Linked DNA regions of Homo sapiens: region 1 is linked to region 2. Evidence: fine-mapped expression QTL. Tissue or cell type: nucleus accumbens. Region 2 holds a variant in brackets; the other region holds the start of a gene. All regions are shown on one strand. Distances are from middle to middle.

Region 1 (8,109 bases), 160 kb after region 2:
ATATGGCACCTTGACATTTGAGAAAACAGCAGAAGTGGAAAAGTCTCTTTGACATTCTCTGGACATTCTCCCCTGAAACATCCTATAAAAGAATTCTCTGACCTACATCTACAGTAGGTTGTAAGACCCTCATATCAGAGGCATTCTCCCTAGGCCCAGAAGAAATGAGTGAAGATACAGAAACATATCGCAGAATCTGAGCAAACCGGCCTTGCTAAATTCCCCCATTTATTACCATTAGGTCATACCTACTTGTCTTCCAATGATACTTCTGGATGACTAACCATAAAAACACACAGATTTCCCTGTTTCTTTGGGTCTTCATCTCTGAAATTTCCTGTGTCTCATGAAACTTAACACTAGATAAATTCATATGCTTTAAATCTGTGTTTTGTTTTACTGATCTTGGCCGTGAACCCACCTATAGGTGAGGAAAAGAATACTTTTTCTCTCCAACACTGATGAGGTCTCTAGATATACACCAACATGGAAGTGCTATTGGGAAGCACTAGTCCACATGGTTTATTGTGGCGATCAGCCTCTAGGTGATCAACTCTGTCTCCTGGTATCCATGACCTGATGCAGCTCCCTCTCACACTGTATAAGGATAAATGTGTATGACCAATGGAGCACAGAAGTGATGGTATGGTATGTCATTTCCAAGGCTAGGCCATAAAACATTTTGTAGCTTCTGCCTTGCTTTCTCTGCTGGAGTATTTGCTCTGGGGGAAGCCAATCACTATGTTGTAAGGACAATCAAGTGGCCTATGGATTGCCCTGAGTTACAAGAAATTGAGGCCTCTTACCAATAGCCACGTGAAGAAGCCATCTTGGAAATGGATTCTCCAGCCGCATTCAAGCATGCAGATGATGGCAATCCTGGCTTGAATCATATAAAATTGGAGTTAAAAAAGACTAGAGGCTGGGTGTGGTGGCTCATACCTGTAATCCCAGCACTTGGGAGGCCAAGGTAGAAGAATCGCTTGAGGCCAAGAGTTTGAGACCAGCCCAGGAAACATAGGGAGACCCCCATCTCAAAAAAAAAAAAAAAAAAAAAAAAAAAAGGTCTGGCGGTTAAGGATTAAGCAGGGCAGACACTGATAATTGGGTCCAACATTTCCCATGAAACTTGTAGAGATTTGTGGAATCCTTCTCTACTACTATTGACGAGAATTGGCACTCTTTATTATTCCTGATACCAAGAGATGTAGTGTTTGGTCCAAGTTTGCATGTCTAGTTAATGAAAACAAACTCCATTTTCTGACTGCAAGTCCAGGGTTCTTGCCAATACTGTGCTACCATCCATACAAATGACTTACTTTTACCTCTTTAATTTATATGAGATACCCATTCACTTGCTGACAATCAGTCATTCAGCTTTTTAGGAATTACTCATCTATAAAAAAAGATCGTATACTGCTTAAGAGAATGGGAGATAGTTGGAATGCTAATTGTGGTAGGCAGAGTAACAGCTCCCAAAGGTATCCAGGTCCTAATTCTGGGAACCTATGAATGCTGCCTTATATGGTAAAAGGGATTTTGTGGATGTAATTAAGGATTTTGAGAAGGGGAGATTGTCTTAGATTATCTAGGTAAGTCCTACATGCCATCACAAATATCCTTATAAGAGGGAGGCAGAGGAATATTTGATGAAGACGAGAAGGGGATGTGACGAAAGAACAGGAAGAGGAAAGGGGATGTGATGCCAGTCCAGAAGCTGAGGAATGAGGACTGCATCCCTCCTGGCACAGGTAAGGAAACAGATTTTCCTCCAGAGCCACCAGAAAGAGCTCTACTGGTTCTTTGATTTTAGCCCACTGTACCTGATTTTGGCAGTCTGACCTCCAGAATTGTAAGAGAAAAAAACTGTGTTATTTATTTATGCATTTATTTATTTTGAGAAGGGGGTCTCACTTTGTTGCTCAGGCTGGAGTGCAGTGGTACAGTCATAGCTTATTGCAACCTCGACCTCCTAGGCTCAAGCAACCCTCTTGCCTCAGCTTCCTGAGTAGCTAGTTCTACAGGTGTGCACCACCACGTGAGGCTAATTTTTTATTTTTGTAGAGATGAGGTCTTCCTATGTTTCCCAGGCTGGTCTTGAACTCCTGGGCCCAAGCAAAAATGTGTGTCATCTTAAGCCACTTGTTTATTATAATTTTTTTACAGCTGCCATAGGAAACTAATTACACTAATCTTAGCTCCAACAGATCGCACTTCTGTTAGTTTGTGCAAGAAAATCTTTCTAAGACTCTGCTTTCTGATCTATAAAATGGGAATAATAAAATGCCTATTTCATAGGGTTGTGGTGAGATTGAATAAGACCACTCATATAAAATGTTCAGCTTAGGACTTGGCATATGGAAAGGTTTTTGTTGGCTATGGATTTGGTCTAGACAAGAAGATTGCAACAGATTTTTCTTCTATTTGAAAACTCCGGTAGAGCACTAAGTAGCTCTTGGAATATATAAAGGATTGTGTATTTATTAGCTATTCTAGCTTTCTCTCAGGAGTGCTGACATCTATTTGTTTCTTCCTTTTTAACTGTCCTTTCTCAAGAGTGTTGACTGCAAGATGAGGCAAAGGCAAATAGGTGGAATAACTGGAGAATAACCCAGAATGAGACACAGAAAGAGGATTTTGAAAGGATTTCCTTGCCTATTATCTGCTTTCTGAGAGAGCCACACAAAACAGGTGAAAAGTTATACTATTTATAAAGATCTCCTGAGAGGGAGTGTCTACAGCTTTTCTGGTAATTTCCCTTGGTACAAATGAAACCTGTTCATTTTCAAGGAAAATTGCACTGATGGCTACACATTCTTTTTCTTTTTAAATAAAATATTGGAATGGTGTTGTTTTTGGAAGCTGCTTGTTACCCAATGTTGCCAAAAAGGTTTTATTATAATGAGGCTATGTGTTAGCTGTTCATGTTTCTAGTGCAGCATAGCTGTATAAATTTTTTCTTTTTCTTATCTCGGATTTCAGATTTCCCTATTTTTTTAAAAGTGTATAGTAATAATATTTACCAGTATTGTTCATCCCTACCACTCAGTTTTCTGCATATGCTTGTATTTTCTATTTCCTGCTGATTTAACTTCTGTACTCTGTTGTTTATAGGGACTTGTCATATTTGCATAGTTTAAGTGCTCTGTCGTTTCTATCACAAGCCCTAGTGGGTAGGTACAACATCTATGTAGTTCGCTTGTGTAGTGCTTGGTGGAACATCTTGTGTTTCATGATTGATTTATGATGATAGAGATGATACTATAAAATAAAGCCAAAGGAAACTTTTAACAATAGGGTCTAATCCTGTTTGGTCCTCATTGGATGTCTCTCCACTTGTAGGGGAAAAAACTGGAGAATAATGGTTGTGTCATCATGACAAACAACTGACATAGTTGAGGCCAGTCGAAGGCCCAGAGCAACCCTGGTCCTGTAGTCAGAGACGACTTATGAAAATAAATGAATCTGGCTCATTGACTTGAGTTCTTGTACCCAAACTGGAAAGGTGTGGTACCTGACACAGGAACAAAGTCTGTCTGAAATCAGCTGTCCGGGATGTCATTTTCTCTAGTGCAGAGACTCGATTGCCTAAATTGGTAGCAGAGGTGGATGTTTCCTAACATGATCTTCCTTGGCCAACAGTGACTGACATCTGAGGTAGGTCTTACCTCTACCTTGGGGGCTCACTGCTTCACTGGTACCATATAATGGTGGCAGTTTAACAGTAATCTTAGTAGGTCTTTTTGGACATTTTAAAGCCACTGCTCCAAAGCATAAGCCAGGCAAAAAAATTGATTTCCCTCATCCAGATGTCCCCATTGTCCAACATAGGTGAGACATTTTTTAAAAAGGCATCTCCAGAAGGCGATTTTTGATCCCTCTCCAGATAAGAGGTTCAAGCCAGCTTTTTCTTATTGTGGGACATCAAAATTTACTATATGACCTGAAATCCTCCCAGGTGATTTAATTCATTCATAGGTTCTAGGAGAGAAGATGAAACTTTCATTTATCCCCATGCTACACACTGACCAATACTGCTTCACCAAACTTTTATCAGTCTTGTTGCATTTTATCTGTTTACACGAGATCCATAGTGCTTTCTCATCCCCACAGTAAACACTGAATTCTGTTTATAACAGAAGGGCAGGATCTGTGGGGAGCATCCGCAAAGTGCTCCAGGCTCCTTTTTCCCTTTTCTCAGAGACACCAGGAATGTGCCTTTGCACTGTTTTGCCAGCATCCTTAAATCATGATTAATTTAAAGCCTTTTCTCTCCTTGGTGAGGCCTGACACAAGCAACTGCTTCTCTGTCACATTGATTTTTCTGTCCTTGCAGATTCAGAGCCAGGGTTGAGTCCTCCTCACAGGGCGAGTTCTCTGACAAGGAAGTTTTGCAACCTAATTTACAGCTGGAGCCAAGCTTGTCAGTGAGTGCCAGAGGGAAACTGTCGCAATCGGCAGGCAAAGTATGCATTTAATAGTATTTATCCAAGCCAGTTTGTGATTTCTTCACTCTCTCCAACAAATATGTTATTTGTAATAGCTATCTTCTCTCATCTAGGTGTTTGAAAAATGTCTCTAACGTGTGTGGGCTGGAATGCATTTTGTTTTTTCTGCAGGTATATTCATTTAACAAGGGGAGTCTCTGAGGAGCTATCAAAAACTGCTTGCCATCTTTCCAAATCATCTCTGTCTGCAGTGACCATGTCTTAATCCTGAAGGAAAACAAGGTAATCTTTTCAAATAAACATTTTCAAGGATGTTTAGAGGGAACCAAATTGCTGGCATGTAGAACCCCCTTCCAGTGCTTAAAAATAGATATATTGAGGGAGCAAAACTCCAGTGAGTTGGAGTGTTTGGAAGTATTTGATATGTTCAGATGACTAACAATAATAAGCTAAATTGCAAGCAATGATCTGAATTTGTGTGTGTGAATATGAGTGTGTATGTGTCAAAGAGACACTGAGTATCCTGTTTCTCAATGTTGTTGGTGGAAAATGAGGCGCAGAGGGGTTACACACTCCCAGTAGGTAAGCAAGTTGGTAAGGGACTTTGGCAATATTTGACCCTAAGCCCATTAGATTTCACTGGGCTAACCTGACTCTGGGGAGAGTAAATATGAGATGAAGAAACATTTGATCATTAAATAAAAAGGAAGCACTGAAAGAAAAGCAATTGGTTGCATAAAACTTATTAATGCAATACTTCTGCTCTCAAGGAAGTTGACATGCAATAGAAAGAGAACATGTAGAGTATGGATTGAATAAACCAAAAATTATGTAGATGATGTAATTACTATAATTAAATCAAAACAGATTGTGTATGCTGGAACTTATTGTATTACTCACAACATAATTTTGTATAACTTTTTTTTAAACCTGTCTCTTTTCCTTTCTGGTCTGTGGGTTTCTGAAGGACAAACCTCTTTTGGCAGTTGGGCCTGAAGCCCCAGAACTTATGCTGGTCCTGGCACCAATGAGGACAGAAATGATTGAGCACATGAATTTGGTATTGAGTTTGACATTATTGTGCTTCATTTTTTGTGGGCCTGGGATGTTTTCTACGTAATTCGTTTATCATTTATTGTTTAAGGTGTCTGCATACTCAAAATATCTTTTTAATGTCCTCCGCCTATACATGACATAAATACTTTATTAACTTTGTTTAAAAAATCTTATCACAGTGCCATCCAACAGGAATATAATGTGAGCCATGTGTAATTTAAGATTTACTAATAGCCATATTAAAAAAGGAAGAAGAAACTGGTGAAATTAATTTTTAATAATGTTTTATTTAGCTATATTCAAAACATTATCATTTTAACATGCAAATATAAATTTATTAATATCTCTTACATTATTTTTTCTAGTAACTTTTTAAAATCTAGTTGGTATTTTATATTTAATGCACATTTTAATTCAGCCCTCAAACTTAATTGCAGACCATTGTATTTCAGTGCTCAATGAGCACATGTGGCCACCGTGTCAGCACATTTCAATAGTTCGCAGGTCAATGTAGAGGACATTTTCCCCCCACTTAGCATTTCATCCCTGTTATTATGCCCACTGAGTGCCGTAGTATGGAAAAAACATGTGTAGCCTAGTAGCACAAATGTAAACTGGGGTGACTAACATCCTAGTTTGCCTGAAGTGGAGAAGTTTTCTGGGACAAAAGACTTGCAATGTTAAAACCAGGACAGTCCTGATAAAGCAGAATGGTTGGTATCCCGCAAGTAAACTATGTTGGTCCAAACAATATATCCCCTCCATCACTGTGATTTGTTTTGACCTAAAGCATAGAAACCTGGCTGCCAATTATGGGATTTTTTTGGGAAGCCACTGGGAGAAAGAACCTTACTTTCTGCTGTGGTTATTATCAGCTAACCTTTATATCATGTGGGGAGAACCTGTTTGAAAGTATTACCTACTTTGGAGGAAATCACAATGAGAAAGAAACTGAGTTTTGGTGACTTATTTTTCAGTTCTTGGACACTGTCGTGTCTGAACCTATCCTATTTTTGGACTTTTCAGTGAATTAATACATTCTTTACACCTGTCTCCATATTGTTTGTTTAAACAGTTAAGGTTGCATTTCCATCATGTGAAACTGGGATAGTTCTAACTAATAGGTTTAGAAAAAAAAAAAAAAAAGAGTACAAGAAATCTAGTTGGAATTCTTTAGGTTCATAAGAAACATAATCAGGCTGTCTATTTTATTTTAACACAGCCTCCTCAAGCTACTGTTGAGTATGTATGTGGTGCTGCCTAGGAACAGTAGGTATTTTTGTGGAGCAAGGGATTGCAGACGGTGAAGTAGCTGCATACTGGCAATAACCTATGAATCTGTGGGGATTCTGAAGAGTAGGAAGCAATGAGACCTGCTGTCTTTCCTTTATTGTCCCTTCCTCTATTGCTCTCAGACTGTTGTGCTTTGCTTGTGTTGTGGGTGTTTTGCTCTGCCATAATGGCTCTCATGATGAACTATAAGCTTCATTCTAGGTCCTGGGACAATCTACAGTTCATGAGATTCTCACCTATGGGTTAGGGACCCTTGGAGATTTGCAGAGTTGCAAAGTCAAGCACCAATTTATTCTTTCTTAATCAATGGATACTAAAAGTGCAATCATTAGTACATAGAAGGCTTGTAACAATTTTTGATGGTTTCAGAAGAAGATTGAGTAAGCATTCAATAGATAGATGCTACTGAGACACTAATATGTAGCTTGACATGGTTAAATGCCTTATGTGAAGCACTTAACAAGTGTTAAAACATCACATTTAAACTTCACAACAATCTTATTGCTGGCATTATTATTCTTATTGCTTTGAAATAAAAAAAAATAGGCTGGGCATGAAGGCTCATGTTTGTAACCCCAGCACTTTGGGAGGCTGAGGCAGGAGGATTACTTGAACCTAGGGGTTCAAGGTCAGTCTGGGAAGCATGGAGAGACCTCATCTCTATGAAAAGTTACAAATAAAAAAAAAATAGCTAGATGTGATGGTGTGTGCCTGTAGTCCTAGCTACTCGGGAGGCTGTGGTGGGAGAATCACTTGAGCTCAGAAATTCAAGGCTTTAATGAAGCCATTTCTACTCTAGCCTGAGTAACAGAGCAAGACCCTGCCTCAAAAGAAAAAAAATTGAATTATTACATTTTCTTTATTCGTTACTCATTTAACAAACTTCATTTTATACTATTATATTCTCAATGAATTTAACATCTAGTGGAGAAAGTAGGTGTACAAAAGTGATTATAATGCTGTGTGTGAGCATATTAACAAATACAGAGGGGAAGGAGAGGAAGGGTCTCCCATAGCAGATGTAGGTGCAGGGTACAGAGCATGGGATCACCAGAAAACTCCCTGGAAGCACGGTGCTTGAGCCAAACCTGACACATCAAAGTAGATCTGCACTATTGCAACAGTCTAGTACAAAATAACTTTTTCAGGAGAGAGTTTCATTATCTTGCAATGACAAATTTTAGTTTGTTTTTCTGCATCATCGTGACATAAGTGACAGGATTCTGATTTGTAAAGCAAAAGAGTTGGATTCTTAACCCTGAATTTACTACTAATGAGGCCCTTGGGCAAAATCTCTCAAACAGTTGGGGCT
Region 2 (8,109 bases):
GGCAAGTCATAGATGAATCTTTTAGGCAACATTAAAGAGTTTGAATTTTATTGCAAACAAGATGGGTATATTAGTCTGTAATACTCTTTATTAATAAAGAGTATTTATTATTTATTATATCAATACATTGCTATAAAGAACTACCTGAGACTGGGTAATTTATAAAGAAGAGAGGTTTAATTGACTCAGAGTTTCACAGGCTGTACAGGAAGCATAGCTGGGGAGGCTTCAGGAAACTTACAATCATAATGGAAGGCAAAGAGGAAGCAGGAATATCTTACATGGCAGGAGAAAGAGGAAGAGTGCAAAGGGGAAGGTGCTACACACAACAACCAGATCTCGTGAGAACTCACTCACTATCACAAGAACGGCAAGGGGAAGTTCAAACCCATGAGACAATCACCTCCCATCAGGCCTCTTCTCCAACATTGGGGATTACAATTCCACATGAGATTTGAGTGGAGACACAAATCCAAACCATATCAACAGGTAGTTTATTCAGGGTCATAAATGAAGCTGTGAGGACTCCCTATTTCAGAAGTGATCTCAAACAAAGGGAAAATAAGTCTACATTTCACCAAGAAAATTTAGGTAAAATGTGCAAAATAATGTTTGGATTTTAAGGCATTTAGTCATTGGAAAAGTTTATTAAAGAGCAAGAATAAATCTCATTTCCTAGAGATCCTTAGAAAAATACAATGTTTATTTGACATAAAATACCACCTAGAGAAAAGAATCAATGTGCTTTTTTCCTCCAGCCACTTAAGCTAATCAACAATCAATTTGATTGACCATGTAATCATACTGACTTACTAATTAAGACCACTAGGAAAGCTGGAATATATTCAACCCCTGTGTCTATTGTTTTTCATCAGTAGGCACTTCCCAGGGGATATATCCTTTTGACTGTCTCCAGGACAGTGATTCTGCCATTATTTGACCCATGAACAACTTCAGTAGATCTTCAGTTATTTGTTCTAGAATTTGTCAGAATTCAGCTATCTGTGATCATAATTTTCAGTTGATGGCCACCACTATTTCCCCAAAAAATACTCAATAGAAGTGAGTTTGCCCTAGTGAAGAGTATTTTCTTTTTTTTTCTCAAGGGCACTAGGAATGAGATCAGTGCACATTGATTCCTGTAACATTTTGGTGACCTTTATAGATTAGTGACAATTAGTTGCCCAGCTGGCTGGTCCTACTCTTTTGTATTTATTTATTTATTTATTTATTTTTAATCCTGCTCCTTCTATAATGACTCTACTCTTAATGTGGTCATATAAACATGTTGTAAACAATAATGCTGCATAGCACTTGCCCAGGAGCCATGTAAGGGCTTCACAGGCCAGCTAAGACTCAGGCAGAGTGGCCAGGGGCATTTTGAAGAAGTGTGGGACTTGTGGTCTCAGACTCCTCCCCTACCTCCTTTATCATTCCCATGGAGACTGTAACATTCTCTTCTCTTTCCTGTGAATCATTGCTTGAGAGGCTTATCTTATTCCCTTTGCAAAGCACAGTGCCTGCAAAAGTAAGGGATTCATATTTGTTTGTTGGTTTTTGGTTTCTGTTTGTTTTAAAGAATGATGATGGATGCTCTAGTTGCTTTTAAAGAGTTAAATGATGTTTGCACTTGCTAAGAGGTCACAGTCTCCAGATGGTAATCTTTTCCACAGGGCTCAGGCTGAAGAGCCACACAGCCGGGCCCACCCTTTTCTTCCCTTCTATTCCCAAACTCCTCTGACAGCATGTTTTGTTAAGATTGGGACCATTAACATAGATTCTTTCCAACAGCAAACCAAAATTTCATGTTGGCAAAGTGTGAACTCAGTTCCGGGAAGGAAAAGTGAAGGATGTCTTGCTCTAGTTCACCTCCAGGAATTTCTGGTAGATCTATAAGCTACGTGAGACAAAGAACAGGTAAAAATTCCCTATTGTCGTGAAGAGATCAGGGATGCTTGTGTAATTCTAAACTACCTATTTTTGGTTCTAAGCACTCTATCTGTCTAAGTCTCTCCACACATGTTTTTCCCCACCTTCCTGTTCATGGACCTGCCATTACACACTCAGTCCATGTGTCATCCAGCATTAAAAGCAATTTATTTATTCATGCATCTTATCTGTGGTATGTGAGAAGTTCTGTATGAGATCAGGCAGAAGAGCGGTGCCAAAACATAACATCCATCATTATAACATCAAGACTTTTAAAAAATACTGTTGTGTGGTATCAGTGATAATTGGGCCTAATGATAATAACAAGTATTACATGGCAGTAGAGATATAGTATTCTATATGCAGAAAAGAATTTGGAAACGGGATTGAGGCAAGATGGTATGCATCTCTGGTTGGGATACGCTGGACAGACAATTACCATACATGCAATTACAAGTAAGGATGCTGGGTTCACACCTGGGCCTTGGGTGTAAGAATTGCCCCTTTCTGGTCTGCCTTTAGGGCAGCCTTGAAGCTAGTAAGGAAACAAGTCTTAAAAAAAGCCATTCTGTTATCATCTAGCGTTCAGCTTCAGAGGGGTTTCTATTGGGTAGCTTCTGATGTCCTTTCAAGGTCACAGCCTTCAACTGCCTTTGCCCATCACTACTTCCCAGAAAAGCTGAGTCTCCCATTCTTTCCCCAGATGCTATTTTCCTGATGCAACGTGGAAGGTAGAGTGGGATGGTAGGAAGGAGATGGCAAGAAGCAATCCCTCAGACTTTTTTTTTTGAGACAGAGTCTCGCTGTCACCCAGGCTGGAGTGCAGTGGCACAGTCTCAGCTCACTGCAACTTCTGCCTCCTGAGCAGCTGGGATTACGGGTGCCTACCACCACGTCTTGCTAATTTTTGTATTTTTAGTAGAGACGAGGTTTCACCATGTTGACCAGGCTAGTCTCCCGACCTCAGGTGATCCACCCACCTGGGACTCCCAAAGTGCTGGAATTATAGGCATGAACTACCACATCTAGCCCCTCAGATTGTTTTTTGAAATCATTTTCACCGAAAGTTTTATTTAGACACTGATATATGCAATGGGAGCAACCAGATTTATTCATTTGGAAAGGAGGAGGCAGCACTGTAGCTCTGGAGGAGAATCCACCCCAGATGCTGCTATTGAACTCGAAGACCTTACAATGGGGAGGGAGGTAAAGGCTTCTCTGAAAAGCACATTTCCTGTTCATAAAAGCTTCCTTGTATTGAGTGCCTATCAGGAGTTATCTAATTTAATCTGCATAATCGTTCTGTGATGTAGCTATTATTATCTCTATTTTATATATTGGGAAACTGAGATGCAGAATTCTTAAATAACTCACCCAAGATCTCATAACTAGTAAGTGGAAGAACTGGTATTCAAACCAAGAGCCCTTTATGTTCAAAGTGCATGTTTTTTTTCCAGAAAATAAACTGCCTCTTGGCTCATACTTCTTTGGGGGAAATGTTAGAATAATTTAATAAAACTGATTCTAAGCTTTGAGGCACTAAGAGAGTGATCTTTCCACAGTGTGCACAATTTGGATGTATTGGCCATGGGTAGGCCTGTTGGTGATAAAAAGAGGGTGCTGATTAATTCTTTCTCTAAACCCCATGAATCTGTAAGTTGGTCCATTTCACCCTTGCCCTTCTGGGGAAGTTAGGAACGAGGTAGTGTTGGTCACTGTTTTGTGGTGATGTACCCATGGTAAATGCAGAACTCTGAGGTTAGCCTGGCTGAGGGGTAACTCCTCTGGGATTCAGCCTCTTACTCATTACATAAATACAAAAGTTTGAGCAAGTCCCCATGTCTCTCCAGATGGGGCCAGGGGTGATGGCCCAACCTGAGTCTGGAATCCCACCTGCCCAAGAGTGACACCTGGGACGTTGATGAATACATTCTCTGTGCCAACGGCAAAGGCTGCACAGTGAGAAAAATAATCATTCTTCCCTAAGCAGTTGAAACCTGAGCTTTTCATTTCATGATACTAATCACCAAGTAAACAGCTCTTTTATGCTAACATCTGTGTGAGGGCTGCTTCCCACACCAGCCTCCTTCCGGCCTGCCTGTTCTCACTGAAATACCAGCAGCATCATGGGGACACTTAACCCTAAAGGTTATCCCTGGGCTCTCCCAGGGCCTATGACATGTTCCAGAGAGGCTTGGTCTTAGGGACTTTTCATTTCCTCAAGAGGGTAAGTGACTCCTTTGGTGTGCAAGATGTGTGAGCTGCCTTGGCAGCTGCTGAGACCCATTCAGAGACCTCTGTGCCATTTGCCTGGATTCTGGAGTTTCATACTCCTGAAAGTGCCTGGTTAATTTGCTGGGAGAACTGACTGCTTGAGCATAGCTCTTGGTTTGCTTTAACTTTCTTATTTGCCTGATATCAGCCAGTTCATGAAGCAGTTCACATATACCGTGCCAGATTTATAAAGTGTGAATTCAAGTCTGTCCTTGGCCTTCTCTGCCCAACCCCCACCATTTCCTTATTGTAGTTTCTCTTAAAACAGCCATGTTTCCCTTCTAAAACCCTTAGTAAATCCTGCCAGATTAATGAATGGGGGAAAAACGACAATTGCTTATACAATTTCATATGTAGGCTATAAGCAGTCCCTGTTCTCTGAGATCCTCCTCACCGTGTTCCTAACAGTCCAGGGCAGTTATTATGCTCCAGGTTTTATAAGAGGAAAAACAGAGAACATTCCTTTTCTTTTTCACTGCCAAAGGGGCGGGGTGGGGGGGATCCAACCCTGAAATTAAGTGAATTGAAAATGAAGTCAAAGGAACGGAGGCCTTC[C/T]GTTCTCTAAGCTCAACACTTTGTGATTTGCTTGATTACACTTCCCTCAGCCCCTCCCTCAAATCTCATAGGCACAGACTCATTACCCCATTAGGATTTGGCTGGGGAGGCCTAAGGGACAATGAGAACATACAAGAATCTGGCTGGGCTGCCAGAGTTAACAACTTCTCATGTGCAATAAAATCAGACAGCATTTTTGATGGACCACATTCTCATTGCATTCAAAGAGCCTTGGAAAGCTTCCATGGCTGCTAATTTCAAATAAGCAAACATCCCGGAGGGATGTGAGGCAAAGATGTGTCCTTTCGGCTCGCCCCTAACATTTGCAGGGCCCAGGGCAAGAGTACAAACGGAGGCCCACAAGCCATATGCCTAAATACTTAAAAGTTATGATGCAAGCTTGAACATTCTTAAGTAAAACATAAAATATGTTCTACCCTCCCTTCATGACAAATGTATTTTCATTAACTATCTAGAGGCTGGATTTGAATTTAGAGTTCCCTGACTCCTTGGAGTTTCATCCTGGAATTGGATGGCCAGGGAAATCGGGCCTCTCACTGCCTGGCCCACTGCCCTAGGTCCTGGGTCTACCCCCATCTTTTCAGACCCTACCCCCATCCTACAATGCATGGGACCTCTCAAACTCCACCACACGTGTCCAAGCTGCATTAACACCCTCATCAACAGCCACCTCTGGGACATCCCTTGGCCTAAAGGTGTGCCTAGTCAGGTCCTAAGAAGTTGGTTTTAGTTGATTGGGAAGGGAATTTTAGGGTCCTGGGAACTCAAAGCATGATTAAGGATGTGTTTGGGGTGGGGTGGGGGTATCGCTTTGGCCCCGTGGACTCTCCTTTTCATGAAGAGAAGTGCTGTTGAAAGAAGGCCAGGTTGCTTGCTCCCTTATAAGATGCAGAGCAGCATCCTCTCTTGCTTGGATTTATGGATGGTACATACACAGTAGGTCTTTCATTTTTTATTTTTTTGAGACAGAGTTTCACTCTTGTTGCCCAGGCTGGAGTGCAACGGTGTGACCTCAGCGCACTGTAACCTCCGGCTCCCAGGTTCAAGTGATTTTCCTGCCTTAGCCTCTGAAGTAGCTGGGATTACAGGCACCCACCACCACCCCCGGCTAATTTTTTGTATTTTTAGCAGAGGCGGGGTTTAACCATGTTGTCTGGGCTGGTCTTGAACTCCTGATCTCAAGTGATCCACCCGCCCCAGCCTCCCAAACTGCTGGGATTACAGGTGTGAGCCACCTACTGGCCTACAGTAGGTCTTTTATAAGGAAAGTTTCATCTAGAAAGTGGACACCTGCCACAATGTCTGCTGGTAGAGGAGCTGTAGGGCCAGGTACTTGCTTCATGCACTGAATGAGAATAGATGTCTAGCTGCAGTGATTCTATTCTGGATGGACAGTGACATCACCTGGGGAAGATTTCCCATGACTCTGCACAGATAGATTCTGATTTCTTTGGTTTAGGGTAGGGTGCAGGCACAAGTGTTTTCAAAAGGCTCCCCAGGTGTGATGGTTAATACTGAGTGTCAACTTGATTGGATTGAAGGATACAAAGTATTGATCCTGGGTGTGTCTGTGAGGGTGTTGCCAAAGGAGACTAACATCTGAGTCAGTGGGCTGGGAAAGTCAGACTCATCCTTAATCTGAGTGGCACAATCTAATCAGTTGCCACCACAGCTAGAATATAAGCAGGCAGAAAAATGTAAAAAGGGAGACTGGAGGCCGGGCATGGTGGCTCACGCCAGTAATCCCAGCGCTTTGGGAGGACAAGGTGGGCAGATCACCTGAGGTCAGGAGTTCGAGACCACCCTGGCCAACATGGTGAAACCCTATCTCTACTAAAAAGTACAAAAATTAGCTGGGTATAGTCGTGGGCACCTGTAATCCCAGCAATTTGGGAGACTGAGGCAGGAGAATCACTTGAACCCAGGAAGTGGATGCTGCAGTGAGCCAAGATCACGCCACTGCACTCCAGCCTGAGCAACAGAGCGAGACTCAATCTCAAAAAAAAACGAGAGAGGGACTGGCCTAGCTTCCCAGCCTACATCTTTCTCCCGTGCTGGATGCTTCCTGCCCTCAAACATCGAACTGCAAGTTTTTCAGTTTTGGAACTCGGACTGGCTCTCCTTGCTCCTCAGCCTTCAGATGGCCTATTTTGGGACCTTGTGGTCATGTGAGTTAATACTTAATAAACTCCCCTTTATTAAGTTTATTAATACTTAATAAACTCCCTTTTATATATATATATTCCATTAGTTCTGTACCGCTAGAGAACCCTGACTAATACACCAGGTGATTCTATGTGCAGCCAGGACTGAGAACCACTGGGCCCAACCTAATGACTTTGCTTCTCATACAGCATGGCATTAAATCTTTGTACCTACTTGAAAAGAACTCAAAGCCATTATGACCCCAGAAAGGTTCATTTCTAGAATAACATCTTCCATATTGTAACCAACAATTAAATCTGTGCTTACAGCAGCAAGACTTGTCTGCAAAGGTTCTGCTAGTGGTAGGCAGAAATCTTAACTGGCATCTCCTTTGTGCTTCATGCAAGGTAAAACTCAAAATATTTAATATTTAACAATCATTATAGCAATCAATCAATACAAACAGACTCCAACTATAAAATACAGGTTGCTGATATGGTTTGGCTGTGTCCCCACCTAAACCTCGTCTTGAATTGTAGCTCCCATAATTCCTATGGGTTATGGGAGGGACCCATTGTGAGATGATTGAATCATGGGGGCAGTTTCCCCCATACTATTCTTATGGTAGTGAATAAGTTTCATGAGGTCTGATGGTTTTATAAGAGGTTTCCCCTTTTGCTCTGATCTCTCATTTTCTCTTGTCTGCCACCATGTAAGACATGCCTTTTGCCTTCTGCCATGATTGTGAGACCTCCCCAGTCATGTGAAACTGTGAGTCCATTAAGCCTCTTTCCTTTATAAATTACCCAGTCTGGAGTAGGTTTTTATCAGCAGCATGAAAACGGACTAATACAGTTGGCTTTACCATTGCCTGATAAATTAATCTAGTTACTCCTCCCAGAAATCCTTTAAGATGTGCCTGTACCAGGTGACTTATAAGAAGGTGGGAGATCTGGGACTCAAACCCAGGTCTTTTGACTCCAAATCCTGAGTTCTGTCAACTCTACCAGACAGCTTTGCATAGCACTTCCGGTTGGCACAAACTGAGTTCTTTAGTCTAAAACATTGGCCTAAACCAGAAAACTTTAGAGAACTGTATTATCAGCCTCATTAAAAAAAAATACCACCCTCAAAATGTATCACCCAGTCTAAATCCATACAAACACAAAGGGGAAAACAACAGTT

What was found. PIP is the estimated chance that this variant, and not a neighbour inherited with it, causes the effect.
Region 1: LINC02518 starts here. The variant in region 2 is fine-mapped to the expression of LINC02518 in nucleus accumbens (GTEx, PIP above 0.99). The same link has a PIP of 0.9 or more in caudate, prefrontal cortex and putamen.

Annotation. Positions count from the first base shown.
Region 1 is chr6:113,429,958-113,438,066 of GRCh38, reverse strand. LINC02518 (long intergenic non-protein coding RNA 2518) reads left to right here and starts at 4,620. Exons shown (of 2, transcript NR_149098.1): 1 at 4,620-4,730.
Region 2 is chr6:113,592,968-113,601,076 of GRCh38, reverse strand. No RefSeq gene overlaps it. Among named protein-coding and RNA genes, the nearest start is that of LINC02541, 53 kb to the left of the region's middle. RefSeq lists an enhancer at 3,995-4,174. The variant C/T (reference allele first, on the strand shown) is at 4,759.